Regions from separate parts of the Homo sapiens genome. Here region 1 is linked to region 2. Evidence: fine-mapped expression QTL. A gene starts in region 2. The other region holds a variant in brackets. All regions are shown on one strand. Distances are between the middles of the regions.

The links. PIP is the estimated chance that this variant, and not a neighbour inherited with it, causes the effect.
Region 1: its variant is the best candidate, but not a certain one, in a credible set for the expression of SH3GLB1 in skeletal muscle (GTEx, PIP 0.63).

What each region holds. Positions count from the first base shown.
Region 1 is chr1:86,745,847-86,762,048 of GRCh38, forward strand. It overlaps SH3GLB1 (SH3 domain containing GRB2 like, endophilin B1), which reads left to right. Exons shown (of 9, transcript NM_016009.5): 9 at 1-2,338. Among named protein-coding and RNA genes, the nearest start is that of SH3GLB1, 49 kb to the left of the region's middle. RefSeq lists enhancers at 7,963-8,022, 9,694-10,194. The variant G/A (reference allele first, on the strand shown) is at 10,022.
Region 2 is chr1:86,693,936-86,709,321 of GRCh38, forward strand. It overlaps SH3GLB1 (SH3 domain containing GRB2 like, endophilin B1), which reads left to right and starts at 10,641. Exons shown (of 9, transcript NM_016009.5): 1 at 10,641-11,036. The coding sequence starts at 10,965. CLCA4-AS1 (CLCA4 antisense RNA 1) reads right to left here and starts at 10,558. Exons shown (of 5, transcript NR_135837.1): 1 at 9,672-10,558; 2 at 3,764-3,827; 3 at 3,086-3,298. RefSeq lists enhancers at 9,845-9,914, 10,479-10,980 and a silencer at 10,805-11,294.

The DNA.
Region 1 (16,202 bases), 52 kb after region 2:
AATAAGCTCTGTGCCACTGAGCTTAATCTGAAAGTATAGTGACATGTGAAGGATGCACATATGAATGAAAAACTAAAATAATTGTAGGCTCTTCTATAAATGAAAAAAAAAGTGATTGGATTGTGTCTACCTTTTTCCTCAAAGTAATCTAACCTAAACGGTCATGGTGTTAAAACTTTTTATGGTGCTAATCAGAAAAATTGATGTTGCAAGAAATGAGGTCTCAAAAATGGGAATGTGCCTCCTCACTCTGCGTCACATGGGAAATAAATCCTGAGGCCAGGATCACCAGTGGGGTAGAGTCATCTTCATAGTCTCCTGTTATCCTCCCCCTGAACAAAGAACAAAGTGAGACTGGGAAGCTAGTGTTGGGGAAACATTTCTGGGATAAACTGTGGAGTGGAGAAGACAATGGAGGGCAAGGCAAAAACCCACAGACTTGTTTACCCATAGAGGCCCCACTCACCTCCATGCTGACAGAATTCCAGAAAAATTCCTTCCCTATCTCCCAAACACCTGAAATTCTGAAATATTGCCCTACTATTTAGCACTTTAAGCTTCAGTGAGGTGCTGTAATGGAGAGATAGCTTCATAGTTTAGCCTATAGCCAACTTTGCCTCAAGACCTCCAGATAAGATGAAGTGGCTTTTACCTCATGTGAGTCTCAAACGCTGGAGAGAGAGTTCCACAACCACCCCTGCCCTTTCTCCCATATTACGCTCATTAGAAAGTCTACTCAGGGCTGGGTGCCGTGGCTCATGCCTGTAATCCCAGCACTTTGGAGGCTGAGGCGGGTGGATCATCTGAGGTCAGGAGTTCGAGACCAGCCTGGCCAACATGGGGAAACCCTGTCTCTACTGAAAATATAAAAATTAGCCGGGCATGGTGGCGTGCACCTGTAATTCCAGCTACTCGGGAGGCTGAGGCAGGAGAATCACTTGAACCCCAGAGGCAGAGGCTACAGTGAGCCAAGATTGCACCACTGCACTCCAACCTGGGTGATAGAATAAGACTCTTGTCTCAAGGAAAGAAAAAATGTCTACTCAGTAGAGCAGTGATTGGCAAAGTGTGAGACCCCAGACCGGCAATATTGGCATCTCCTGGAGACTTGTTTAAAATGCTGATTACTATTTTCAAGAACTTTCTACCTTCATTTTTACTTATTTTTTGTTTTCAAGGGCTCATGGAATCAGTCTTCCATGTGACAGCTTTTTAAATATTTTAAGACAAAAACTGAGTCTTCTAATCTTAATTGTGTTCTAGCAGTAGTCATTGTAATTATAGTTATTTTTATAATTTATTTGTTTAGTGTATATCTGTCACTCTAGAATGTAGGCTCCCTGAGATAAAAACTATAATTCTTTTGATGGCAGTTACATTCCCAACTCTTAGCACAAGATCTAGGACATAGTATGAACTCAATAAATTTTTGTTGAATGAAAGAAAAATGCAAATTTATAAGCCTTTTCAGAGACCTACTGAATCAAACTCTGAGAGTGGAGCCCAGCAATCTGTTGTAAAAGCTGTTTGAGTAATACTGTTGCACTCTAAGCTTGAGAACCACTGCAATAGAACTAAGAGAACATTCATTTCACCTTCAGGCCTATTCTCTGACATCACTTGAAAAATCCTCTCTGCCTTCTGTAACCCTTAACCAACAACAGTGCCCTGTCCATGTAGGGGAAACTTCTGGGCTGTATTACAAGTGGGTAGGAAGGTATAAGGATATCATAGTGGGAAGTATTGCTTAGAATGCCAGTACTTGTTTGCTGTGGAAGGTTTCTAGGAATGGATTGCTTAGTCTAAAGTAAGCACTACCACCATCCACGTTTTCACTCAACACAGTGCCTTTTAATTGGTGACTAACATCAAAACACCTTGACAAACCGTTAAAACAGTATCAGAAACCATGTGTACATCCCTGTGCCTCTTAGATTGCTAAGTTCTGCTCTCATTCTTACTTCAAAGGACACTTTTTAAAGAATTGTTAATGCTTTTTTATAATACAAGTCATAGCCCTGTTGGCAAAAAGAAAAAAGATTCAGTGAGAAAGAAAAATCACTGATAATTCCATCATCCAGGGAGAACCACTGTTATTTAAGTATATGGCCTTCCAGACTTTTCTGTGCATTTATAGATATTTTTAATGGGATCAAAGTGTACATACTGTTTTGTAACTTTTTTTCACTCAACAATACCATGACTGTCTTGCTGTGTCAAGTATATTTCTACATCTCTTAATGGCTGCATGATATTCCATCATATGTGCCACATTTTATTAAACTACTGTTCAATTTTTAGGTTTCCAACTTTCATTAATAAAGTGCTTTAAAGAACATTGTGTTGCTAAATCTCGTATGTGTTCATATTTTCTCACGATAAATGCTTTGAAGTGGAATTGCTAGTGAAGAGGGTATGCCAGTTTTTAAAAGCTTTTGTTACTGCCATGTTGCCCCCTAGAAAACTCTAAGCAATTTATACTTTTATCAGCAGTATATGAGAGAATACTGTTTCTTTTGGAGGGCTTCCAACTAGAATGTTCTTGGAGTCTTTGGTTTAAAAATAAAGGGTAAGAGGGAGATAAAAAGATCCTGCAAAATTAAAGTCCAGTCTTAAATGTTTCTTAAATTATGACATTCATTTACTGTTCTTCCCTCTTTATCATATATTTTGTATTACTTTGGAAATGTTTGTAGTACTAGTTGCCTCTTGCTTTTATTCAGTCTCCTGGAAGCATTATTACCTTTCTGACATTTGCAAAGACAGTAGAAGAACAATCTTAAGTAGACTTGAATCTTGAGGTATCTTTGATGCAGGTGTACTGTTGATGGATTTAGGGAATGTAGCCGTAGTGGGGAAAGTAGGATTTTGGAAGGTAGGCAGAACAGTGGCTCTCCCACTTGTTTTCCTGGCCTTTTGTCAGTCATTAAACCTCTCCCACTTTGAGCCTGCTTACTCATCTCTAGAATTAGAATACTATAAACCTACCTTGTAGCATTGAAAGGATTAACCATATTATGAAGAGTGGCTGGCACCTAGTGGATAATATTATGGCTTACTAGGATTTATAGATGAGCATGTTAGAGCATTTGCTATTGTCAACCTCTGGAGTAAATATCACTGCCATTGCCAAAGAAAATCTTCCTTGAAAGCTGTCACAGTGAATGAGCATTGTCTTGTATATCCTTATACCTACGCAATCCTCATTCTTATGGAATCTGGCTCATTTTTTCCAGTCAGGTATTCAAGTAATGTAACCAGATAAAACTCTCAGACAAGATGTACAGTGGAAGATTTCAACATTACCATGCTTAACAACAGTGTACGAAAGTGGTAATCACAGTCTTTTTAAGTGGTAAACCTTGCCAAACTGCCCCTTCTGATACTCCCCCACCCTTGGCCCACAGCTGATCTCAGTGCTTCGGGGGGCTGTACCTCTATGTGAGAGCCTGACATAGGACAGGTGACTCAGCTCAGTAACAGTATTGTTAATTAGCTAAGTCTCAGTAGCATCTCCAGGACTGGAGATCACAGAATTGATTCATCCATAGTGAGAGAAATGTATTTAAAGAAGTATCTGAATTATAAAAGTTGCTCAGCAGTATTCAAAAAGATAGATGTCCCAGGGTTGAGCTGCAGTCATCATAGCAAAACCCCACAGACCAACCCATTTTAATATTTGGATGAACCATAATAAATTTAAATTAACATCTGTTGATTATAACTCAAACTGCTCAACCAATAAAGAATGAGTAGTAAGAGGACTTAAGGGGGTTGTAAGTAAGGAAGGCTATACAGGAAGCTTCAGGCTTACGAGAACAAGACGAATAGCTAATTGGAGGTGAGATGGACTACCATTATAAGCAACTTTTCTGAGAGTCTGATGCACCAGGGTTTAGGGCACATGTTTCTGCTCAGTCTCATGTTCTAGTAAAGTTCTCTGAAGCTTGAGCTGTAGTAGGCAGTTCCCAACAACCAGGCATTTTGATACCTGCTTGCCTTTTCTATGTATTTTCTTGTGTTCAGCTTCACCTGAAGATCCTCATTTGTCAAGAATAAGCTCAAACTCTCATTCCTCCATGAAGAGATTCTGGATTCCGCAGGCAGAATTGCATACACACACACAACTATCACATGCATTTTGCCTTGGATCACAATTACTTGCCAACTTGAAGGACAGGATTTTGTGTCCCCTGACACCTAGCACACCTAAAGCTGAGTTTTGGCAAGCTCATAGCTTGCTTGCAGCATTGTATTTGCAAAAAAATCTATTAATGATTCAAATTTGGTGCTATTATGTGTATTTGCCCTAAGAAACATTGGCTGTTTAGGACACCAATATTACAGAAAGCACATATCTACTTTTCTTGGAGAGTAATCCCCAGAATCTATCATCATGGTTATTACTTCATTGGCTCTGGTTAATTTTACGGTGCTCATCACTGACTCATACTTTACAAAACAGTAATTTGTTACAGCATGGACTTTTGCTGGCCACATCTATACTTCAAATTTAGGGTCAGTCACATCAAGGTTGGATGGGGGTATTTCCATTGTTGAGCTTTTCTATATAGATGTCTTCTGTAAAATGGGCTAAATTTCCTTCCTTTCTCCTTTTCTCTGCCTCTTTTCCACCCTTCCTTTTTTCCATTTCTATACATTCTCCCTCTCCCTTCTTTCAAAAAATTTACATGAGAAAATGTATAATAGAAGATCTTGATCAATTGATATTTGTGAATGACAAATCTGACCCAGATTTCTGAGAACCAAAGAAAGATGTATGATCTGGCTTCAGATTGACTGTTCACATATAGAAACATGCTGGTTGCTCAGGAGACAGCTACTCATAAAGAAGCACTCATAAAGAGAGCACTGAGACATCAACACCAAAGCGGAGTTAAGAGGCCACAGTGCTGGCACTGATTCATGGATTAAATTGTACATGACTGCTGCATTGAAGTTTTCATCAAACTGAGAGTATAAATGGGCACAAAATTATTCACATTAACACCCTGAAACACAATGTCGCTGAGCCGTGGCCTGTCCGATCATCAGCAAGTGGAGGATTCCCCTCGCCTGTGTATGTTTTAGAATCTCCAGAGACACATCCACAGTCAATCCTCTTCTTTCTACCTGCTAGTGAAGACAGGCCTTCTATCCCAGCTCACACTCCTAACCTAATTGCCTCAGAAACTTTCTGCGGTCACTGCCAGTGAATCTGAGGTTTAGCATGCTGAAAGTCGGTAAAATGGGAAGGTCACCACTGGCATCTGATAGCCCATTCTACAGAAGTGGGTATGGAATGCCTGCAATAAGGTTGCTCATCAAGATTCAAAATCTTACCTCAGTTACATGATAGAGTTTTCCTCACTGATACAACAGGGGCCCACTGCCTAGGCAACCACGTGGTGACAAGTATGTTACCCAGACGTTGTGTTTCTTGCTGACCTCTAACCCACCCCCTTCTTCAATGCTACCTACAGCCCACAGTGCTTGGCTCACTGCTGCCTCAGACAGAGAGGAAAGTCAGAGTTCTATGGCATGATGAGAGCCATTTCTTCCCTATTAGCACTCAATCGCAGGCTTCCCAGAAAGCACAGCTCTCTTTTAAGTACAAGAGCTCTTTAAATTTACACACACAAAGCCAGTTCTCCCAGGAGAAAGCCCTCACCAGATTGTCTGGTGAAGATAAATTCCACTGTTGGACACTTTGCAGTCCTGGAACCAAGGCTCCCCTTTGTCCCATAGCTCCCCTTGGTGTCAGGGAGCTGCTCACCTGTCTATTTCTACCTTCATGATAAAGTCCCTTTTAAGGGCCGTATTACTTTATCCCACACTCTGGCATTGATTAGTACCATCTCATGGCATCCATATGCTTCAATATATTTGGACCCCAGTGTTAGGAGCAATAGAGTCCTACTCTATTCCTGAACTATAAAATGTTACTATTCAGCCCAGACAGAATGTTTTATTGCAAAACCACCTAGCACAGAAATTGACTATAGACTTTGGAATCAAAAAAGCAAATTTTCAAATCTCAACTCTACCACCTTATTAACTGTGTGTTCAGTAAGTGACACAACCTGAACCTGTTTCTTCATCTACAAAGTACAGATTAAAATGCTTACCTCCTAGGTTTGTAGCAAACAGTACTTCTCAGACCAGCAGCATCAGCATCACCTAGAAATTTATTAGACATGCAGTCTCGGGCCGCTGCTGAATCAGAAACCCTAAGGATGGGTCAAAGCAATTTGCGTTTTAACAAGCCCTCGGGTGATTTGATGCATGCCAAAGTGGGCGAAACACCAGTTGCAAGGATTAAAAGAAATAATGCACATAAGGGCTGGACTCAGTAACTGGCATACAGTAAATACTTAACAATTTCTAACTACTATTTTGTCACTATTACAATTTTTAAAGTAATGAATGAACTACACACTTTTCAGGCAAAGTTTCGTATATATTTCTCATAACAAAGCTTTTCATAGACATTTGGCAGCTGAAGGCTGGAGGTTAAGATCTCAAGAATATGGAGTACAAATCCTTATATTTTAACCAATCATGTAGAAAATGAGTTTAAATTCTTTTCACTAAAAATTGACTGAAATCTATATAGAAAGTCACTCCATTTCTGAAAGAAAAAACAGTACTTGGAGAAAGGGTCAAGATTTTTCTCAGAAAACAGTCAAGGTCTGCTTCTACACATGGAAAAATGGGACAATTGAAGCTTCAATAATGGAGCTTCCAGCCCCATTATTGCCACAGCAACTGCCACATCATAGAATATCACCATGATCATATTCACCTGAAGTTTTTCAAAGCATATGCTTCCAATTGCATGGTGTGATTATAAAACAATTTCTATCATATACTCATAAAATGACCAGCTTTATTTCATGTAACTTCCTGATGAATGCCTCAAGATAAATTTGTGTTATAATAACCCTAGGAAACTAAATGAATTTACCTTCTACCCAGGCTGTTTGAATGTAAATCAATTACATGTTACAGAAGACTGAAATGATAGTGGTTTTATAATCGTCCACAAGCCATTCTTTCTGAGAGCATTTACCTAGCAAGTCCAGTAGAAATTAAATTTGTGGTTGCGTACCTTCAAGCAAATTGTTCACTTAATTTCTCAGCCCCACAGATTTTTTTATCTGTAAAATAAAAGGATTAAACCAGATGATCTCTAAGGTCCATCTAGCTCTTGCTTCCTAACATGTTCTAAACAAGCCAAAGTTGTTCATGTTTTAATAATAACTAATGTTAAACCCACAATTATGAATTAACTTGAACAGCATACACATTTCTACTGGCAGCTCGTTGATGGGGTTGTTTTCTTTATATTTTAGAGTATAAAGCTCTTCAGTCTGAGCTTTCTACAAAAGGCTGAATAACACCTTGTGAGAAATTCTTTAGAAATCCCTCTCTACCTGGACTGACTTAGACCTCAAAAGGACCAACTCTGTGCTCAGACATTCTAGTGAATTCTAATGAGTATATATGAACAGTGGCACTCACAGTCTTAGGCATCATTGGGCTTTTACATCCCCTTGAAAAAGTTGCTAACACTTATTGAGCACTTTATGTGCTTTACCTTCTTTAAACCTGGCAAGAAAGTATACTTTCCCCCATTCTACAGACGAGAAAACAGAATTTAGAAAGCCACACAACTAGAAAAATGGCAAAGAAGTCTCATTGCTTGCCTTCCCAACTCCAAAGCCCAAGCTCTTAATCAGTGTGGAACACAGACACCTATTTTTGGAATGTGCCCCCTACATATGGTCAATGGTCCATTATTTCCTGCACTCTTCCCAGGTTAGTACTTTTCTTGGGGCAGAAAAAGTATTGCTCTTAACATAAAGCAGCTATAAACTGCTGCTTAACCAACTAAAGAAACCTACAAAGGTCATCAAGCCAAGCAGGGAGCTGCCAGTGCCATCACTGCCACAGCTGAAAGTGCAGAGAAATCAGTGTTGGTTTAAGTCAGGGCTTCTCAAAGTGCAGGTCCTGGAATCTGTCAGGGGTGGGACTCTGCCATCTTGTGGTTCAATAAGCTCTCCAGATGATTCTGATGCACATGTTTGAGAGCCACTTGTTTACATATAGCAGAGAAACCACCTGTCTCTCACCTCAAAGCTGACTCACCTGCAGAAACAATGAAAGATGATAATGACAGCCCCCCCAAAATACCTCCAAGCTATCAAATGAAACTAAAATGTAATATCATTTTACTGACTCTATCCAATAAATAGACCACTCATTAATGAGTAATTTGGTAAGCACGTGAACATGCTCAGGATATAATTTTTCCAGGAACAGGGAAAAGAGTCCATGGATTGGAAGTTTATTTTGAAATTCAGCTGTAAGGGAATACGTTCTATGTATCTGTCTTTTATCAAGGTAAGACAGCAATATAATTTTATTGTTTCTTTCTAGCCAGTGTCTCAGTTTCCACTGAGGGGTTTATATGCCCTATTCAGCAGGACAAGAGCACATTATTTTAAAAATAGATGCCAATCATTGGCATTTACCACATGCCAGTCACTGTGTGGGGTGCTTTACACATTCTCTAATTTCATTCCTGCAACAATGCTGCGAGGTAGAGATTGTCCTTCCTCTGCAGATGAGAAAACCAAAGTTTAGATAGAGACATTAAGTGTAAATCTGCTAAGCTCATTTCAAGACTCCTGAATCTCTAGAGAAAATAGATTTCCTGAGTAACATCTCCCTTTTCTTCTTTCTCTCGATGCTAATGCAACATTCCTTTACCCCAAGACTGCCAGGCACAGGAAGCCAGTGCTCTAGACCTTCCTTCATGGCCCATTCCCACTTTTCCTTTGACTCCCAGCATGAGCCCACTCTAGCTAATTTTAACACCATTTTCTGCAAACTTGAGGTCCCCAACACCCGGATAGCTGAGCTAGGTGGGCTGCTGAGACTAAAGGATCTATGGGTCCTGGGGGAGGAAAAGAATGCCCCTGGAGGGAAAAGGAAGAAGGGCAGTAGGTAGCAGAAGGCGTGGCTTGGATGGGGGAAATGTGTCAACAGTGATACTGACCATGAACACACTGAACAACTAGCAAAGAGAATGGCTGAAAATATGACTGCTCAATGGAGGAACTAAGGAAAATATAGTCATATTTGTAAATAGTTTATCATTTCTGTTTCACTGCCATACAGCACAACAACTAGGATGCATATTATTAAATGGGTTGGATTAACTTTGTGGGTTTGGATTATTTTGCTGGAATAGTGACTTCTTTACTACTGTGACAATGCTATACTACAGAGTTTGCTGAACACACAGCACAGCTGTCTGTTCACTGCTTCAGAATTGGAGAGACCACTGGTCATATCTATATTTCCCTAGTTTGGAGAACATATATCCATACATTCCAATGCAAAATGCAAAAACAATGACCTGAGTTTGGTAATAGATCCAGAAACTTGTTAAGCTCTTATCAGCCATGTGTCTGTATTAAAAACCACCTGGGCCAGGCGCGGTGGCGCACGCCTGTAATCTCAGCACTTTGGGGGGCCGAGGTGGGCGGATCACGAGGTCAGGAGATCGAAACAATCCTGGCTAACACGGTGAAACCCTGTCCCTACTAAAAATACAAAAAATTAGCCGGGCGTGGTGGCGGGCACCTGTAGTCCCAGCTACGGGGGAGGCTGAGGCAGGAGAATGGCATGAACCCGGGAGGCGGAGCTGGCAGTGAGCCAAGACCGCGCCACTGCACTCCAGCCTAGGCGACAGAGTGAGACTCCGTCTCGGAAAAACAAAAAAAAAAAACAAAAACAAAAACAAAACCACCTGGCTGCAGTTGAAAGATCACCTTCTATTTGCGGTCATTCACTATATTTGCGGTAACTTCACATCACTGATCACAGGAACTACAGTAATGGGCAGGGTGGCTGAGCAGGGATTCCTTTGCCTGTCTTCCCCAGTCCGTTCCCCAGTTCCTCTCTCCCAAAAGTCCTATCAACAGAGACCTTGCAACTTGAGGCAAAAAGT[G/A]AAAGAATAATAGCTGCAGTAACTTAAGTACTTGCTGCATACAAGGCGCTGTGCTTAAAGTGATTTACATTCATTATCTCATTTTAACAACCTGAGAGGTAGGTATGACTCTTATCTGCGTTTTACAAAAGGGGAAGTGAAGGCTCTTAAATCACATAGCCTGGTAGAGTGGTAGAGCCTGGGCTTTGACCCAGGGCTCCCTAACTCCAAAACACTTGCTCTCAATGTCTACAGAGGACTCCCCAATGCACTATTATACCATTTAACTTGGCTAATGGCCAGTGTTTAAAATGGATAGGAGCAGAGACTTATCCTATCTATAACCAAGGTAGAGTGCAGCCTCTGAAATACAGCTGAGCAAACAACTCAAGCACAGTTTGATGTTCCTGCCCAGTGGGTGCTATTCCAGGAACTGATATCCCTTCCCTCATGTTCCTTAAACATATGTGACACCCACTATTATGGTATTGACAATGGGCTGAGAACCCCCTTCTCAGTGTAAGCAGGGACTCTTTCTAACCTCTCCCTGGTATAGGAAATGAGCACCTCTTCCATTCTGTCTCCAGTCTACTTAGCTCTGTCAGTAACTTGTCCAAAGCTTCTTTGGAAACTCAGTTGATTGGAAAACAGAGTACATTTTATATAATATAAATGGTGATGAGGCTCTTAGGTCAGTGCACCAAAGCCTACTTAATCTGCAATGTGCCTGAAAATTGATGGTGCAGCCGAACCCAGAACAGTGCAGAGTTGTTGAAGACCCCTAAATTTCTCCAAGCCCAGGCTTTTTTATGCTCCTCTAGTTCCAGGGCAGTAACCAGCATGTAGTAGGAAATAATACTAGCTCGTGTTTTTTGAGCACTTACAATGTGCTTGACGGCACTGTACACCCATGATCCCATTGGACCCCCAAGGCAGCTCTAGGCAGTAAGCACAATTGTTAGCCTCAAGTAACTGAGGCGTAGAGAAGTTAAGTGACTTCCCAAGGTCACAGAGGTGACAAGTGATGGAGGATTAGAACCCAGGCAGTCTGGATCCAAAGTCAGTGTGACCAACCACCTGTGGGCCTTTAGTTGCCTGAAAGCGGGGAAGAGGACCCGAGGCTGGGCTGAGGCTCTGCTGTGTAGTCAGCTCCCACAATGCACACATGGAAATCACACACACAAGCAGGTGGGGAGTGGGCTGGACAGGAGGTCTGGTGAATCCCTCCACAAAGGTGAGGGAGAATATGACAGAGACATCCACACAAGCTTCGGTGCCTCTAGAAGAGGAGGAGGTCCGTGAACAGGAAGGTGTCCGTGGGGTGGGCCAGGGAGAAGACAGAGCTGCTTGGACTGGAGAACAAACAGCTTGCTCCATTCTCCACAGTTTCTACTGCTGCTTTGAGGCATGACCTTGGGCAAGTTCGTCCCCTTCTGCGTAATAGTTCCCACCTCTAGAGTCTTTGTGCGGATTAAGTGAAATAACTCACTTTGCACGGTGCCTGGTGCCCACTCACTGAGAACATCCTCTTGTGATTAGGACCATTATCATTACATCAGAATGTCATTTGACTCTGAACACAGCCAAAGCCCACGAAAAAGCCTTTCGCAATTGGCCTTGCTAAGACAGGCTTGAGGGTAAGGAGGTTTTGCCCCCTACACTGGACACAGCGCTGAAAGGCAGCCGCAGGACCCCACCTCCCTTGCCTCTGCTGATGAGGGCCGTAGTTCCAGTTTCCTTTCCCTGCCAAGCCCTTACCAGCACCACCAACAAGAGGCGTAATAAACTGGCTTGAGTCCCACCTCTTCATTTCCGCTTCTCTACTCTCAGCAGCTAGGGCTAAGAAGCTGTGAAATGAAGGAATGCCCGTTGGCAAGAAGAAAATAGTCACCAAGCCAAGCAGGCCCTGAATAATCAGGCTGCAGAACCGGCCATAATTTACTATAAAACAGTCTCTACTGGTGACGAGTGGTGGGGCAAGAACAGAGGAGAGAAAACAGATGCCCCTTGAAGTTTTTCACCAAAAATCTAATAAGCCATGACTTATGAATGCGATGGTGTTTTGCAATCCACACTGCAATTCTTCACAATGTCTAGGTCCACAGCCAGCTCTCTGTGCTGAGAGGAAGGTTGCTATCTATACTACCACTGGCAAAACAAAAACAAACAAAACTAAAGGCAAGATGGTTGGGTCCTAAACTTAACACTTAGTTTCCCCATTTCTGTTATATATTAGCTGAGGAGGCATTTGGAAGACCCCACAAAGACATTATATGTAAATCAATAACAATTTTTGTTTTATGTTCAAACCATGAACACTGACTAGCTAATTTTCATGGCATCCCTATAAGTGAGTTTTATGATCCTGCTCCAGTTCAATTCTTCTTCAATACTATAATCAGCTTAGATGATTTTTTCATGTATTTCCATAAAATGATTTTTGCCAGCACCTTACATTTTCATCAGATTTTCTTGTCGTAGCTGGATACGGCTGGCACAGACAGTTAAGTGTTGTGAAATGGAGCGGACTGACAAGGATGGAGAATCAAACAAGGCATTGGCATGGGCCAACGTGGAGGGCTGCAGGGAGCAGGCAAGGGGGCATGACCTGGCTAGAAGTGCCTGGGAGAACAGCCTAGTGTTTGTCAGCACAATCTACAAAAGCAATAGCATAGATTAAAAAGCAGGAGCCCAAGCAAGGGTCTTAATAGCTGAGGATATAGGACATTTGACCGCTGTAGAGGATTGTCTCCAAAAAGTGGGTAGACACACCCCTTACTCTTACCTCTATGAGAGGAGTGTCCTTGGCTGCCCCATTGATGGTGGGCTCGGCTACATGCCTTGCTTGGTCCTATGGGATGTTGGGATGTTAGTAGGCATGATAAGCAGAGGCCTGTAATGTGTTTGCACAGTGGGGCTTGCCCTCTTGGGCTTCTGCCAGCACCATGAGAAATGTCCGCCCTGGTAGCACTAGTTCAAACAGGATGAGAGACCTGTGGAGCAGACCTGGATCACACTCACAGCTCAGAGCAAGCCCAGGTAAACACATTTATCAAGCATATTTTTAATGACTTCTTATCCTTCTAGTTGCAACTTACATGTCACTGTCTCAGAGGTCCCTGCCCTGACTCTCCTCCGGGCTAAATTATGCCCCTGTGTTAATTGTGTTTCAATGAAAGAAAATAATTAATTAGGAAGAAATTATTTGCTTATATGTTTGTTTCTTCCATTAAATTACATTCCTTGAAAGCAAGGAGCATATCTTATATGCTTAATATATTCTAGGGATTGTGCTAGAGTTCAATGAAGTCTATTAGGCTCTTAGTAAATATTTGTAGAATGAAATATAGAAAGCACTCCTGGAGGATGAGGCCACAACTACTACAGTGGTGACACAGAGCTCTTCTCTCAAGGAGCTTTGCATCTACAGGGCCAGACCATCAGCCACTGCACAGTGATAGGCTAGAGCTACTTAAATCCTTTCTCCCTGTGGTCAGAATTGACCTGAGAGACTGAGACAAGGTGTCCAGTTAGCTATTGCCATGGAACAAATTTTGACGAAATTTAGTAGCATCAAAGAACAATTACTATCTCTCAAGGTTTCTGTGGATCAGGAATTTGGAAAGAACTTGGCTGGGGCCGTTCTGGTTCAGCGTTTCTCATGAGGTTGTAGTCAGGTGGCAGCTGGAGAAGCTGGAGGCTGGCCATACATCTCTTTATTCTTGTAATCTGAGGGCTACTTCCTGTGGTCTCTCTGCACAGGTGAGTTGAGCTTCCCCCTAGCATGGCAGCCTCAGGGTAGTTGGACCATGTTCATGGTGGCACAGGACTCAAGTGCAGGTTTTAACAGCAAGCAAAGTGGAAGTTGTATCACCTTTTTCTTTTTAATGTGGTTAAAAACACATAACATTATCTGGGTGCGGTGGCTCACACCTGTAATCCCAGCACTTTGGGAGGCTGAGGTGGGCAGACCACCTGAGGTCAGGAGTTCAAGGCCAGCCTGGCCAACATGGTGAAACCCTGTCTCTACTAAAAATGCAAAACTAGCTGGGCATGGTGGTGGGCGCCTGTAATCCCAGCTACTCAGGAGGCTGAGGCAGGAGAATCGCTTGAACCCAGGAGGCAGAAGTTGCAGTGAGCTGAGATCATTCCACTGTACTCTAGGCTGGGTGACAGAGCGAGACTCCACCTAAAAAAAAAAAAATAATAAAAATCTTCCATCTTAACCATGTTTTAGTGTATGATTCACTAGTGTTATGTACGTTGACATTGTTATGCACCCAATCTCCAGAAATTTTACATCTTGCAAAACTGAAACTCTATGCACATTAAACAACAACTCCCCATTTTCCTCTCTCCTGAGCCCCTGGAAAACAGTGTTCTACTTTCTGTTTTTATGTATTTGACTACTTTAGATACTTCATACGAGCAGAATCATGCAGCATCTGTCATTCTGTGACTGGTCCACTTCATCCAACACAATGTCCCTGAGGTTCACACATGCTGCAGCACATGACAGGATATCCTTCCTTTTGAAGGCTGAATAGTATTCCATTGTGTGTATATGCCATATTTTCTTTATCTATTCATCTGTTGATGGACATTTGGGGTGCTTCCACCTGTTGACTATTGTGAATAATACTGCTATGAATATAGGTGTGCAAATATCTGTTCAATTCTTTGCTTGTTGCATCACTTTTTATGACAGCCTCAGAAGTCACAAAATAATACTGCTTTCAATGTCAGAAACCCACCCACATTTTAAGTGAGGGAGCATAGATCCCACCTCTTGATGAGAGGCACATCAAAGCCACATTATAAGAGGAGCATGTGGAGTAGGAGATATTGTTACAGCCATCTTTGGAAAATACAACCTTCCATGCAAGGATCCAGCTAGAAATGGAAGGGAGCAGAGGGAGAGATTAGGGAAGTGTTGTCAACCATCAGAGGTTGGCATTCAGACATCTGCCATACCAATGAAGGTCATGGCAAAGACCTTGCTGGCCACCAGCCTGCATCCTGTACAAAATAACACTCCACCACTTTCTATCTCCTTACCCTGCTTTATTCTTCATAGCACTTACCTTCCCCTCGGTACTTAATTGTTCAATTGCTTATTATATGTCCCTCTCCACTAGAACATAAATTCCAAAAGAACAGGGACTTTGTCTTTTTGTTTGCTGCCATACACCAGAGTCTAGCATGGCAGCTGACACAGGGTAGGCACTCAGTAAAATTTCATTAAATGAATGAATGGATTCAAGAAAGATGAAAATTTGATTTGAGTTCTGTGTTATAAAGTGGAATCAGGGTCATCTGGTGTAGTCAGACAAACCTGCACGTAACTCCTAGTCTCAACCCTTACTGTCTGTGTGGTCTTCAAGGAGCTATTTAAGAAGAGAAAAGGGTGGGTAGCAAGGTAGCTGATGCTGAAACTCATCATCAGTATAGTCACAGCCAACAGAAACATGGGGTCAAGTGACAGAATATTGACCAAGGGACCCCTCAGAACCTATGAAGTCCACCTCCCTCATTCAGCGGAGAAGAAAGCTGAGGCCCAGGGAAGTGAAGATTCCTACCCAAGACCACACAGAGGCAAGACTAAAACTTGGGGTCCCAAGTCCTCCGACTCATCAAATGATTGGGTCCATCAGAACTCAAAGTTGCAAATGATAGAAATGTATCCCAATAACTAGGCTAGGCACAAGGAGAAGTCTCAGCCCCACCCATGTTTTCTCATGAGTGTGGCAGATGCCCTTGTTGCCCTGCATCTCATCCCGTCACCCACACCTGCAGCTGTGATGGATAGTGTCACTTCAAGTGTACCCTGACTGTTCTTCCACCACAAGACTTTCTCAAAAGGCACAGGAGCCCACTCAGCCCACAATCATGTTCAGCCAGAGAGAGAGAGTGTAGTCAAAGCCCCCAGGGACAACTCTCAACCACAGAAAAACAGGAGCCATTAGGCAAATGCCCCAACCTTCTCTCCTATGGGTGGACAATTCTGGAGGCTTCAATGGTCCCTGCAGAGTTGAGCCCCTTTAGCCTAGAGCAGTGACCTTGACAATGCACACTTGATTGACTGTTTCCTTTTCCTTGTGCACTCTCCCTGTCCCCTCACACCTGCTTGCTGGGATCACCTCACAAATAACTACCTTCCTCTGTAAATCCTTGACTTGGGCTCTGCTTTAGGAGAAACCTA
Region 2 (15,386 bases):
TTTTTACGTTACCCATCCCTTTTTATTTCTTCCAAGCTGCAGAAGATTACCATTTTATTCACAGGAATAAGAAGGATTAGTTTAAAATGTAAGCAAAAATCTTAAAAACAATTGAGATGAGGATTTAATGACAAATGTATGATAAGCTTTGGAGCAAAATTTTTCTCTCCAGTTCTCATTTTTGGTCAAAACTAATCATGAATGAACTTTAGTCTTATACTTGGCTTGATTATTTGCATGAAGTGCAGTAAGAATAGTTATTTCTACATAGGTCTCTTGGATTGGCTTTGATGAAACTCTGTTCCACAAGGAATCTTAGATAAGACCTTTAAAGCCGAGCCCAGCAATGGGTCTGTATCCTCAAATACCTGTGAGTTGGGTGATCCTCACTTCTTGAGGTCCCAAGAGAAACTCCGAGCTTCCAGACCTGTTAGAAAGTGACATTCTTTATTGACTACAGGTTAGGAACCCTGTGCGGGGACTGTATAGACAAGGTATGAGGCCAGTTCTCCAAGGGGCTTTTATTGGCTCTGCATGTCAAGCTTGATTCCTTAAAGGGAAACACACCATTTCAGCCAAAGCCTTGGTAAAATAACCAGTTTATCCAATTGTGTCCTGTTGACAAAGAAAAATGCATTCTTATTGCACTGATGCAAACAACTATACTGCCATAAGTTAAGAGTACTTACAGGTAGTCTCCAAATTTTAGAGGAACCAGGTGGAGATAAATGAACATGCTCCAAATTTTGTTTACAGTAGTATACCTTACTCAATTATTAATGGCCATTAATAGTTTAAAATAAGTTTCCTTGACTCTGAAAAACAAAACAAGGATCAGCAATATTCCAAGCAAAAGTTAAAAAGATTACTTAAACTTTTTGAATGCAGTCCACTTAGTTAACTCTTGTTTTGCTTAATATTTGTGAACATGTCAGTTCTATAACTGTCTTTATTTTTACAGTGTCTTGCTGTTTTCTTCAGATTTTAATCTTCCTTTACTTTTCATTCTGTTTATCTTCTATTTCAAATCTTATTTATCACAGCCATGCAAATGACTCCAAAGTGTCTATCTTTAACCCAGTGTTCATTCCCAAGCTTTAATCACATATTTCCAATTGCTTTCTAGACATTATTAGACATCTTATGCCTCATGCTGTGAGATTTATCTGACTACTCAAATAATGTATCCATTCTGTGACTTATGATAGCACTCACCTCGCTTGATACTTGGCAATAGCCAGTGTAGGTCCTCTTTGCATGTGAATAGGACTGCATGTCTCTGAGTACAGGAATCATGTTTTGTGCTTCTTAGAAGACTTCTGGGTATCTTTAACTCTACCACGACCACTTGAATACCTCCCAAGCCAGGCTTTCTTAGATTCAACTTTCCATATTATCTCACGTATGCACATCGTTTAACAAAAAAAAGATTATATCTTATATTGCTGTCCTTCATGGAACTTAGCATAGGGGTTGCTCATAATAGGTGTTTGTTAGATGATCATATTGGTAAGTAACTGGCAAGTGGATCCTTTTAAGTTTTTCCTTGGTAACTTAAGAGCTTAAACTTATACCACATAATTTGGTGGCGTTGTCTCCTTACTCCCATACCTCAAAGCGTCAGTAAATACACTGATATTTACCTTTCAGGACAAGAAGCTAATTGCTAGTATGAGTCATATTAACTTAAATTCCAACAATGTGAGCCAAACTGTTATTTTACTTTTCCTTTTAGTCTTCATCTCAAGTCACAAGGTAATATCAGTAACTAAAGTATAAAATAAAATTATAGTTAAGCTTTATTTTAAAGTGGAATGAGCATTCAGTCCTCAAAGTAAAAACATGGGCATAATGGGAAAGAAGCTCTTTGAAAGAGAATAGCATTGCCAGTAGTCTAGCACTTTTATTCAAGATTGAAGAATGCAGTGAACTACATGATTCCAGGATCTTAAGTGTAATAGGAAAGAAATTATGTCATTTTGAGGTGAGGAGAAGTTTTGGTTTGTTGGCTAACATCTATGGCAAGGCATGCAGATTATGTCAAAAGCTAGGGTGTTTTGTTTTGCTTTGTTTCTCATCCGAAATAGAAAGCAGATTTGCCCATTATATCAATCATTAAACCAGAAATACTACCTAAAATTAGATTCCTTACACATATTGGAGAAGAGACTGTTTTTTCTCCTTTTCTCTGCCTTTTATACAACGTATACATTCCTGTTGTAAAACACAAAGGCAGATTTTCAGTATATGGGATTAAATATGAACTTTCCTCTTTACCTTCCCAGTCCTTTTCCTCTCCCCAATCTTTCTCTGTATGTATAATTCTGTATCAGTGTGAATGTGTGGATATATATTTATATTATTTCATAATAAAATGGAATCACACTGTAGGTATATTGTATGACTTTCTTTTTTCTCTTAACAATATAATTTAGAATTTTTTCCATTTCAGTACATATTTGTCTCCATAATTCTTTTAACTTTTCTATAGTATTTCACATTGCGAATGCACCATACTTCATAAAACCATTTTCTTACTGATTAACATTTCCAACTCTTTGGTATTAAAAACAGTGTTGCACAAAAGCTTGTATACTTATCTTTGTACAAATATGCTTTGGATAGATTGCTATAAGTAGAATTGCTGGGTCAAATTTAAATTTTACTTAATATGCCAAATTACCCTTCAAAATATCTTTATCAATGTGCACTTCCTCATATTGTGTTTGAGAATGCTTGTTTTCCTACATACTCCAATAACACTGGACATTACTGGTGACTCACTGCTTAACTCAAAGTAAAAATAATAAAAGCAATGTAAGTTGGTAGAGAGACAAATGCAAGACGAAAGAAAAAAATAAGTTCTAATTACCTCATCTTTAACATGGTAAGTTAATAGATGATGTCTAAGATTAAAACAGGTGATTTAGAAAAAAGAAGAAGGAAGAAGAAAACCTCACATAAAATGACTCCAAGAGGGGTCTTGTAGGATCTAATACCTCTGTGGGAAAGAAATAACATGAGGTTTATTCATTTTTTACTTGTTTTTTATTTCTGCTAAATTTAAATTAATTTAATTTAATACCTTTTATAACTTACTCTTTTTCTTCTTCCTCTGTGTATGTCTCTCACTCAATTTTCATTGTATTTCCACACATAAAGAGATATCACTGGCTATTTCTGGATAGTGGTACTTGGATTGCTGGCTGCTTTCTTCTTTGTCCCTTTCTATGCTGTTTGAATATTTTAATGAGTATCCATTATGTTTATTAAATCAACAAAGGTTTTACTATGAAATCTAAAAATAAAAACATGAAAGAAATGTTATACATGTGTGTATATCTACATATACATACACATGTTGTAAATCCAAGAAGTACAGAAAGATACAAAATAAAATGTGAAAGCTTCCTACCCTTCCCGCTCCTTACCCCATACCTTCTCCCCAAAGGTAACTGCTATATGTAGTTTCTTAAAATTATTTTTATTTTACAAGTTATGCATATACAAAGTACTTACATATATATATAACACATATTCCTTTTTATTTACACTCAATTACCCATACACTGTTCCATACACTTTTTTTATTAATATGGTATCTTGGAAATCTTTATACATCAGCACTTACAGACACATGTCTGCTGCTGTTCCTTGAGGCCCCATTCATATATAGTGTTTTCAATACATCTATGAGTAGTGAATTCCAGAAGACCAATGAGAGTACAAAGTAAATGGTTTTTTAAAGCTGCCAACCACTTACGCTGAACAGATGACAGAAGGAAAAGGCAACCCATAGTTTCTCCTCCTTTCAGTCCTTCCTTACTCTTCATCAGCAGGCCAAAAGTAGAGTATTGGTGGAATATGCACATATCAAGAAATAAAATTTTTAAAAATTGATTTAGTTTCATGCCGCATTTCCACTGTTTTAGTAAGAACAAAATACATATGCATGCGTGTACTGTGAAATACAAATTGTACAATTTCAATGATTCTACATACATCTTAAATGCTGTTATATTTGTTTTTTATCTATAATTTTTTTGTTTCAATAGGTTTTTGGGTAACAGGTGGGGTTTGGTTACACGAATAAGTTCCATAATGGTGATTTCTGAGATTTTGGTGCACCCGTTACCCGAGCAATGTACACTGTACCCAATGTGTAGTCTTTTATGCCCCACCCCCACACCAACCCTTTCCTCCAAGTCCCCAAAGTCCATTGAAACATTTTTAAGCCTTTATGTCCTCATAGATTAGCTCCCACTTATGAGTGAGAACATACGATGCTTGGTTTTCCATTCCTGAGTTACTTCACTCAGAATAATGGTCTCTAATTCCATCCAGGTTGCTATGAATGCCATTATTTCATTCCTTTTTATGGCTGAGTAGTATTCCAGAAAATATATACAACATTCTCTTTATCCACTTGTTGATTGATTGGCATTTGAGCTGGTTACATATTTTTGAAATTGTGAATTGTTCTGCTATAAACATGCATGTGCAAGTATCTTTTTCGTATAATGACTTCTTTTCCTCTGGGTGGATACCCAATAGGGGGATTGCTGGATCAAATGGTAGACCTACTTTTAGTTCTTTAAGGAATCTCCACACTGTTTTCCACAGTGGTTGTACTAGTTTGCATTCCCACCAGCAGTGTGAAAGTGTTCTCTTTTCACCACATCCATGCCAACATCTTTTTTTTTTTTTTAATTAAAGGCCATTCTTGCAGGAGTAAGGTGGTATTGCATTGCGGTTTTGATTTGCATTTCCCTGATAATTAGTGAGGCTGGGAAATGCTCTTATATTTGTTTTAAAACTGGCATTGTAGGGCCGGGCGCGGTGGCTCATGCCTGTAATCACAGCACTTTGGGAGGCCGAGGCAGGCAGATTACAGAGTTTGAGACCACCCTGGCCAACATGGCAAAAACCCGTCTCCACTAAAAATACAAAAATTAGCTGGGCATGGTAGCAGGCACCTGTAATCCCAGCTACTTGGGAGGCTGAGGCAGGAGAATCACTTGAACTCGGGAGGCAGAGGTTGCAGTGAGCCAAGACTGTGCCACTGCACTCCAGCCTGGGCAACACAGTGAGACTCCATCTCAAAAAATAACATAACATAACATAACATAACATAACATAACATAACATAACATAACATAACATAACATAACACTGTCATTGTACAACATGAAGATGTATGGTAAAAATCATTCTAATAATTTAAATTATAATCTTTTCTTTGCTTAGAATGACATTAAACAGCAAATAAAAAAATGACAAGTCAAAAGAGATCACAAAATAAAGGAAAAAGTTTTATTTTAATACCTTTAAACAGCACTTTCCTTTTGCTCTTGAACAAAGGGCTCCATATTTTCGTTTTGCATTGGTCCCTGCGAATTATGTAAGTGGCCCTGTTTATCAGTCTAAAAACTGAAAGGAAGTTTCAGTGAGCATGGGAGACTTTCAATTCTTGCCTTACAGCAGCATGGCAGACATTGATAGTTGCTTACCCTATAACTATTCTCTTTCTGCCTTGCTAACAGAAACCCCATTTTTGTTCAGGATGACAGTAAGTGCTGTTTAAGAAATAAAGAAAGATTTAAAAATAAAATACTAATTTCTATTATGATTGTATACTTTCAACTGAATTTATATGTATCTATATATAGATATATATAGATATATAGATACATATATATGTATTTTTGATATAGATTTTTTTAAAGATATAAAAAATTGAAATACTTATTTTTCAACAGGGCACATTTCATTTATCAGTCTCTAATGCATTTACGGAGAACTAAACGACCCAGTTCTAGCTAATGAGATGTAAACCAAAGTTTACTACGTGGGGTTTATGAAAAAGCTGTTTTCTTGATTTAAGGAGTAAGAAGTAGACTCAGTTGGCATGTACTTTTGCCTTTACTTTTCATCCTTTTTCTGCCTTAAAAACATATTTAATGCCTAGAATTACAGGAGCCATCTTGAGACATTAGGATGAAAGCTACATGATAAGAATAGAAAAACAAAAACACAGAAGACTGCCTACCTCTGAACTTCTTAGAGGGTGAGAAAATAAATCAGTATTTGGGTAAGTCACTACAGCTAGGTTTCTGTTACTTGAGCTGAACATAAGCAGTCCTTAATCAATACAGACTAGATAACATGAAAACTCTTCTACTACAAATACTTAGAAATGCTGGGTAAAATGCAGCAAAATAAATTAATTAATTAATAATAATGCATACTTGAGCTTACAAAAAAAAAGACAGGGAAATATTCAGGTGGCAAAAATAAAAAAAGAAACTGGACACCAGGGTCTTGAATACAGAATATGACCCTGTCTGGAGAGGAGAAAGGATTGAATGAGGATGGTGCTTGAATGTTTAAATCCATGAGGTGATAAATGGATTTTAAAAATGTGATATATGTATACAATGGAAAACTATTCAGCCTCTAAAAAGAAGGAAATCCTGTCATTTGTGACAACATAGATGAACCTTAAAGACATTATGTTAAGTGAAATAAGCCAGGCCCAGAAAGATGAATATTGCATGATCTCACTTAAATATGGAATCTAAAAAAGTTGAACTCAATAGAAGCAAAGAGTGGAATGGTGGTTAGCAAGGGCTGGGAGAGAGTGAGGGAGCTGGATGACGCTGGTCAAAGGATATACAATTTCAGTTACATAGGAGGAATAAGTTCAAGAGATCTATTGTACAACATAGTGACTATAGTTAACAACATGTTGTATTCTTCAAAATCACTAAGAACAGACTTTAAGTGTTCTCACCATAAAAATAAGTATGTGACGTAATACATATGTTAAGTCACTCAATTTAGCCATTCCAAGATGTATACATATTACAAATCAGGTTGTATACAATACAGTATATACAATTATCATTTGTCAATTTTCATTAATTTTTTTTTTAAGATGGAGTTTCGCTCTTGTTGCCCAAGCTGGAATGCAATGGCGTGATCTCAGCTCACTGCAACCTCCTCGGTTTAAGTGATTCTCCTGCCTCAGCCTCCCGAGTACCTGGGATTACAAGCACCCACCACCACACCCGGCTAATTTTTGTATTTTTAGTAGAGACAGGGTTTCACCATGTTGGCCAGGCTGGTCTTGAACTCCTGACCTCAAGTTATCCACCCACCTCAGCCTCCCAAAGTGCTGGGATTATAGGCATGAGCCACCGCGCCTGGCCTTTATAATTTTTAAAAATACACGGTAACTTGTGATAAGACCTTGGGCCCTTGGTGCAAACAGAAATCAGTTAACTGTGAGCACACCCTGTCCCCCAACTTCATGACCTCACACACACACATAAGTTAAAAACCCATGAAATTCTGTACCCTCAATGAAAGGGTAGACTAGATAGAAGCTTTTCTTCTGGCATAGTAAGAAGCTTTTCTGTCAAGGCACAAGCTCTGAAAGAGAAAAAAACAAGGAAGATCTCTCTCCCTTGAGAATTTGAATCATAGTTTGTACTCCCACAAATCTGGGTTCAAATTTATAATATCTGAATGATCTTAGAACTTCTAAGCCAAGAAAGAAATTCATGTAAAAATTGCTCACTAGCCAGTGATAACCTTAGGGGTCTCTGACAGAAGAAACATTTTTTTCTGTATCACTAAAAATGAGCCATAAAAAAAAAAGCTAAAAGGAATCAATGTACAAAGCAAAAGGAATCAATCCACAAACAAAAAGGTCATCAAATACACAAATAGAAGTATTAGACCCCTAAATGCAAAAGGATTTATCTATATGATATCATTTATGCAGTTTAAAAATATAACATAGTAGTACCATTCATAGATACATATAAATTCAGTGAAAGTACAAAAACATAACAGATATTAATCATACCAATTTAAAAATAGTGGCTAACTCTGGGGAAGGAATAGTGTCAAGAAAAGCCTGAATAATTGATCCAGACTGAAGGAGAATTGAGCAACAAGCTAACTGGATGCAGCACATGATCTTTCTTGGCTGGGACGTTTTTGCTGTAAAGACATTGGAATAATTGGCAAAGTTTGAGTGGGGTTTCTAGGCAAAGGGTACACAGAAGTTTTTGTACTATTCTTGCAACAGTTTTCTTAGTTTGTAAATTGTTTCAAGTTAAAAAATTTGTTTTTAAAAAGAGGATGAAAATGAAAAATAGGAAACAGTTTCAGAGAAGAAATTGCCAGGATAGACCAATTGGTGGTGGGAAATAAGAGGAAATAATCAAAGGGGACTCAGATTTCTGGCTTAGGTGATTTGGTGTGTATGATTCAATTTATCAATGTAGGAAACCCAAGAAAAGAAGAATTTTCAGGAAAAGCAAACTATAACAGACTTGCCACTGGAAATATTGAATCTATGGATAAATAGTTGGAAATTTAGGCTGGGGGTGATGGTGTCACAAAAGAGCTTAGCACTGTAAACATCTTGATTTGATTACTTTTTTCACTTACTAAATCATTTGGGAATTCACTATGTTGCCTGTGTAAACCATAAAATATATAAAAATAAATAGGAAACGGACACTGCCCTTAAGGGACTGATATCTGGTAAGAGAAGTAGAATCAGTCTGTAGGCAAAGGGTAGAGACTGATGGAGCAAGTTCTAGAGGGTGACAAATTAGTTCTCAACCTTGGTCACACATTAAGAACACCTAGAGGAACTCCTAAAACATCCCAATGCCCAGTCCACACTCTGGGACTGGATCCAGGCATCAGTGGTTGCTTAAACTCTCCAGGTGATGCTGATGTGCAGCCAAGATTAAGGGAGCAGTGGCTCTACTCAGAACACCTGAGACACCTATTCCTTTGAAACATTTGGCAATGATGCAGGAAAGAGTGTGGAGAGAACAGGAGGTGGAAATAAGGAAATTTGGTTGAAGAGGCTTCTGCCAAACAGAGTGATGATTTATATTTTCTCTGTAAAGAAAGCGAATCAGCTGGGTGCGGTGGCTCACACCTGTCATCCCAGCACTTTGGGAGGCTGTGGCAGGCGGATCACTTGAGGCCAGGAGTTCGAGACCAGCCTGGCCCACATGGTGAAACTCTGTCTCTACTAAAGATATAAAAAATTAGCCGGGCGTGGTGATGCATGCTTGTAATCCCAGCTACTTGGAAGGCTGAGGCAGGAGAATCCTTGAACCCAGGAGGCAGAGGTTGCAGTGAGCTGAGATCACACCATTGCACTCCAGCCTGGGTGACACAGCAAAACTCTGTCTCAAAAAAAAAAGTGTCAAAGGCTAAGAATAAGGATATATGAAAATAAGGTAAGTCTTTTATGGAGAATGGGGAAACAGGATTACAGCTACAGAGGGTGCAAAAGAAAGAAGTAACATTGTTGTTTTCCCAAGACTGGGAAGATTGAAACACTTGAGGATGAGGATTCAGGGACACCACTGTGTCCACCATTAAAGAATTTCCCCTTTAATGGTGGACACGGTGGTGTGATCCTTTTGTAGAGACGAGCATAGGTTATGGCAAATATACCTACTTTAAAAACAGTGCTCTGGGAAGAGAGTAAGTGCTTTTCCACATAAAGATCTAAAATAGACAATAAATGAGAAATAGGGTTTTTTATTATATATTCATTTTTCCATATTTCTGGAAAATGAAACAGACATGGAGTATTTCAAAGCTGGGAGAGATCATTATATTGGAGTTACCTTAGAAAGAGGGGGCTGTTTCTGCCACCACAACAAAGAATGAAACAACACAAATATTTACGTTTTCTTCTTGTCCTCATAATGCTTTTACTGCACTCGTCTTTCAACCTTTAACATCTACTGCATCTGTGACTGTTGTTTCAGTAAAACACGGAAGCTTGAATGTAAGCTCATTTCATTGCCTGCTGCACAACCACACAAAACAGCATTTTCTTATTCTTGAAATATGATAGCAACGTCTCCTTCCATGCTTGTACCTGTTTTAATTCCTTTCAAGCAGAGGCTGTATCGTGAAAGATGCTTAAGAAGTTACTTGGAACGACAGGATTTGGAACGGATGTCACATCATATTCTCATTTGTTATTAAAATTAGTCACGCTTAATTGTTAAGGACTATCCTGTGTCGCTCGCCATCTTTGTGTCCTCCACCTGGCACTTTGCTTTCACACAGTAGGCACATAGCGTTGAGGTCCCGGAAGGTTGTCAAGTAACCGGCCAGGAGCTTGAGGGCAGGACATTGTCTCCGACACTTGATTCAGTGCCTGGCACACAGGAGGTATTCAATTATGCTGAATGAATGAGCAACCGGCTCGGTGGGGGACAGTAAACCCAACCCTATTCCGCGAACGTTTGCTGAGCGGCATCCAGGCCTCAGGGACCAAGTGTGTCGCGCGGTGCCATACCGTGACCGGGACCTGTTATTTCTAATGTCCAGATATTGTAATTCTATGCTGTAACTCCTATATTTCCTCTTAAAACAAAAAGAGAAATGTGGGTCGTGTTCGCTCTGGGTTCTCGTTAAGTGCAAGCATACAGAGGCGCCGAGACCCCGCGGCTCGCCCTCGCCGCTTCCTCCACAGGAGCCGGGCGGAGCTCCCGGCGCGCCCCGGGGCTGCGCCGCCGCAATCCTCAAGGGGTCGCTGTTCCCGCGATAACCTCGAGAAAGGCTCCGCCCCGCGGCCCGCGCTTGTTTTTCCCTTGGGACCCGGGTCCACACGGCGGGGTCGCCCGTCCATCTCCGGCTCGCCCGCGGGGCCCATCGTCGACGTTAGCGGCCGTTCTCCGAGCCGACTGACCCATCCTTGGCGCTGCCGCCGCGCGCTTGTTCTCCTCCCTCGCCCCGCCTTCATCCTCCCCGTTCACGGAAACGACAGCTGCGGCTGCGGGGCTGGCGCCGCCTCCCTCCACCTACCACGTCTGCCCTCGCCGCTCTAGCCCTGCGCCCCAGCCCGGCCGCGGCACCTCCGCCTCGCCGCCGCTAGGTCGGCCGGCTCCGCCCGGCTGCCGCCTAGGATGAATATCATGGACTTCAACGTGAAGAAGCTGGCGGCCGACGCAGGCACCTTCCTCAGTCGCGCCGTGCAGGTACCCTGGTGCTGGGGGGAAAAGGGGTGGCGGCGCCCGGGAAGGTTGAGGGAGGGGACCGCAGCTCGACGCGGCGCCCCCGGGCCTCGCCGACCACCCAGCGGGCCTGCTGCAGCCAGAGGCCTGGGAGATGGGCGCGGCCTGGTCCCCTCCCCGGGCCCGGCGGCGGATTTCTGCCCCGCTCCTGCCCAACCGCCGCTCCCTGGGAAGCGAGGCGGGGTGGGGACGGGGCCGGGAGCTTCCTCCCACCCCTGGGGAACACTAAGGCTGCACTGTCCGCCTTTCTGATACCACGACGTCAGTGCTCCTGTGGCCTCCACCCCGGGGCTGGCGGAGGCTTGCGAGTCCTTTGCGGTAACCGAGACACAGGCCATTCTTGCACTACCCCCCACCCTTTCCTTTCGTCTCTCACCCTCCCCTCGGAGTCCAAGAAGGGAGTTTCCTTTTCCTGTCCTTCAACCCAGAGAGCTGCCAACACAGTTCCCTCCGGCCCTCTTTCTCCCTGAAAGGACTGTCCTGGGCTTGGCAGCCCGCGGGGGAAATGGAGATCGCCAGTTGGCGTTGAGACTTTGCCAAGACCACAAGAAACCTAGGGTTGGGGGGTTTTCACTCTTTTTCAAAATGGGAAGCACCAGCTGTAGATCAAGGAGAGATGCGGGGATATTGTTATGGCTGTAGTCACAGTAGTATGTTTTAAATATACTTTAAGGGGAAAAGTTGACTACCTCTCGATATTCTACAATCAAGGAAGTGTCAGTACTAAGGAACTTGGGCCGTTTCCCACAGTCATCACCCATGTTATGCCAACTCAGTAAATCTGTGAACAGATGTAAATTTCACAACATGAATTATAAACAATCTGGTGTTTACGGTCACGGTAGCAACAACATTCTCTTTTGTAAAAAGAAAACAAAAATAATTTTCTAATATGCATACCAAATTGGTGCTGAAATGTAAATCTGTTCTGTGGCTTTACTACTTTCCTTGCCTTTGCCCCAATTTTGTTGGCACAGTTGATCCTACATTGCACTATCCCTGGCAAAAGAGTAGTAGAGCTAGAGCAAGGTAATAGCTGCCTATATTATGAAAAACCTGTCAAGCACTTTGTAATGCATTTGACATATTATCTCCAGTCTTTTCCATAACTTTGCCAGATAGATGTTATTAACCCCTTTTATATATGTGAGGAAGCAGCCTTACTGAGGTTAAGAAACTTGCACAACTAGTAAATAACCAGGTGCTGTCTGACCTAGTACTCCCAGCTGCTTTTTCTTCCGGGATAAGCATTCCAGATTTAAGATAGCTAGAATAATAGAATGCTGTGGCCTAGAGAGACCTTAAAAATCATCTGGTTCAATCTGAGCATTTCCATATCAACAAGCAAGTAACACTTTAGAGATGGTAAATTCCTTCTAGCTTTTGATTTCTAAGTTCTAAAATCTGCATGGTGAGTAATAAGCTAGCTGCCTTAACCCTTTTCTTCCCTTCCTTCCCTAAAATATGATATATTGTAGACGTTGAGCCTTTATAGTTAAAATAATGTTTTGATTTAAATTCACTAGCTTCTAATAGTTCAAAGACAAGGTGCAAGAAGAATGAGTGATTGAGGGTGTGAAATGAATTTTGATGTGTGAGACACTTGTACACTTTTAACATTGACTGCAATAGAGGACTAGAGCCCTTGGTATTTTTGTTTGTCCTAGTGCTCATTACCTATAATTCTAGATGCTTATGAGGATTTGACACTGTATAATGCTACTCTTTTAAATACAGTTAAATATGTTTCAGACGTATAACTCACACCCCTTAAAGAGGACACATTTACTAGAATTTAGTCTGATTTAAATTGTGGATAGACTCAATTTAAAAAATTAAATCTAGCAAAGCTCTCAAAATGTGTACTTCCCAAAGAATTTTAATTCCTTGTTTCAAATTCTTTAGGAAAAAGTTTTAAATTTTATGCTAATCTGTTAGCCATCAAATAATTTTCTTTTCAGTTTTAAATATTTAAGTGTCTACTGCATGTCTGATGTCTGCTTGTGGCTACTGTGGACACTGGTGATACAGCAGTGAATAAAATCAGCAAAGTGTCTGCCCTCCTGAAGCTTACATTGTAGCGGAAGATAAGCTTGTAAATACATCAGGTGGTGATAAAAATCATGGCCAGAAGAATAGAATAACGCAGAGATGGTGGTTGTTAATATCTTTATTAGTATTTTCTAACATTAGTATCGTGTATAGATAGGATGGTCAGGGCAAGTCTTTCTAATAGGATGAAATTCAAGAGACCTCAAGGAAGTGACAGACCTAGTTTTTTTTGGAATAAAAGTATTTCAGGCAGCAGGAAGAAGTACAAAGACTGAAGTTTCAGGGGCATTAAGGAGACCAATGAAGGAGCTGTGGCCATAATACACGTAAAAGGCGATTGTAACTTAGATTACAGTGGTAGCAGTGAAGGTTCCAAATTATCCAGTATTGGCTGTTGGATTGGCTGTGAGGTATGAGAGAAAGATGAGTTAAGGATGACTCCAAGGTTTTGGCTTGAGCCGTTTATTAAGGGAAAAATTTTAGGAGAAACAGACTTCTTTAATGTGTCTGTAATTGTTAGAGATACATACTGAAATGTTTATGGATAAACTTATATCATATCTGAGATTTGGTTTTTACAGGGTATTTTTTTTTTTTTTTTTTTTTGAGATGGAGTTTGGCTCTTGTTGCCCAGGCTGGAGTGCAATGGCGCGATCTCAGCTCATTGCAACCTTCGCCTCCCCGATTCAAGCCAATCTCCTGCCTCCGTCTTTCAAGTAACTGGAATTACAGGCAGGCTCCACCACGCCCAGCTAATTTTGCATTTTTAGTAGAGATGGGGTTTCACCATGTTGGTCAGGCTGGTCTTGAACTCCTGACCTCAGGATCCACCTGCTTCGGCCTCCCAAAGTGCTGGGATTACAGGTGTGAGCCACCACACCAGTTGAGATTAGCGTTTGAATATTTCAAAAGAAAAAAACAGAAGTCGCTGAAACAACAGCAACGGAATGTTGATAGTTGTGGAAGGTTGGTTATGGGTTCATGAGGTTTCATTATACTGTTATACTTTTGTATGTTTGACATTTTCCATAATACTTTTTTAAAGATAAAATTTGTAAGAAAAAAAGGATGCTTCTAAAATAGAACATGTGAAATTTGGAATGCTGTGTGGTAGTTTTCAACAAAACACTGCTTTCTCATCTCAGTATTTATTTCATCACTGAGTTCCTACATTAAATTGCATTGACATCAGTATAATGCCAAAGTACCAAGTTTCATGCTAAGAATAGCTTAAGAGCTATGCCAATATCTCTTTATAAGCAGTAAGAACAGTAGAGAGAGAAACATTCACGTTTATAAATAATAATTTTCATTCAAATCAAATTGTACCGTAAGGAATATGCCATTCTTTGGTTGGCCAACGCCATACATTGTTTTCCATTTTACTTAAAAATTTCTAAGTTAAAAATTAAACATGTTTCTTGTTTTAAAAAAAGGTCAGCTCAAACTAGTAAAGCACATAGATGCGTCCCATCACCACTCCACTTCCCTCCTTTTAAAATTTGTTTATAAGCCTTGGTACTTTAAAAAGAATGTTAGACTAGAATGTATAAATGAGTAGGAATGTTTATTCTTAACTAGCCCATTTGGGTGCTTGTTTTTAAGTACCTCAAGATGGTAAAATACAAAAGTATCAGGTAATTCACCCTTGCTTAATTGTTATTTTACTAGAGTTTTAAATGCCATTTATTCTTAGAATCCATCTTTTTAGTCCAAACTTCTTAGTTGAGCATTAAATACTCCCTTACAATCTGGTCCTTTCTCTCACTTATATAAACACTGTATTCCAAATTATTTTTTAATTTCCAAAATATCTTCTACTTATTTTAGGCTTTTGTTCATATGGTTAGACTCCTCTTAAGTGTCCTGTCTGCCTATTCTTTCCTTTCCTTAAGATACAACTTTATTCATCTCCAAAATGGAGAGAGTAAAAAAAATTTTAAAATAAAAGTAAAATAAACTTTTTTTAAAGATATAGCTTCAAATCCATCTCAGCTGATAAGGCTTCTTAGACCACAAGAGCTTGCTGTGAAATCGTGAATCATTTTCAATTCCAAATGATGAGGTGGCACTTTTCTTCTAATGAACTGTTATGTTAGATCTCTTGGAACTCTAAAGTTCTGTTACTCTGACTTTCTTTAATAAGTTTGTATGTGCTAAGGCATCAACTCTGTTTCTTATTCCCCTCTTACAACATCTAACATGGTTCATCTTTTATATCATTTTAGCCAGGCAAATTACCATCCATATGTGAAGTTTAAT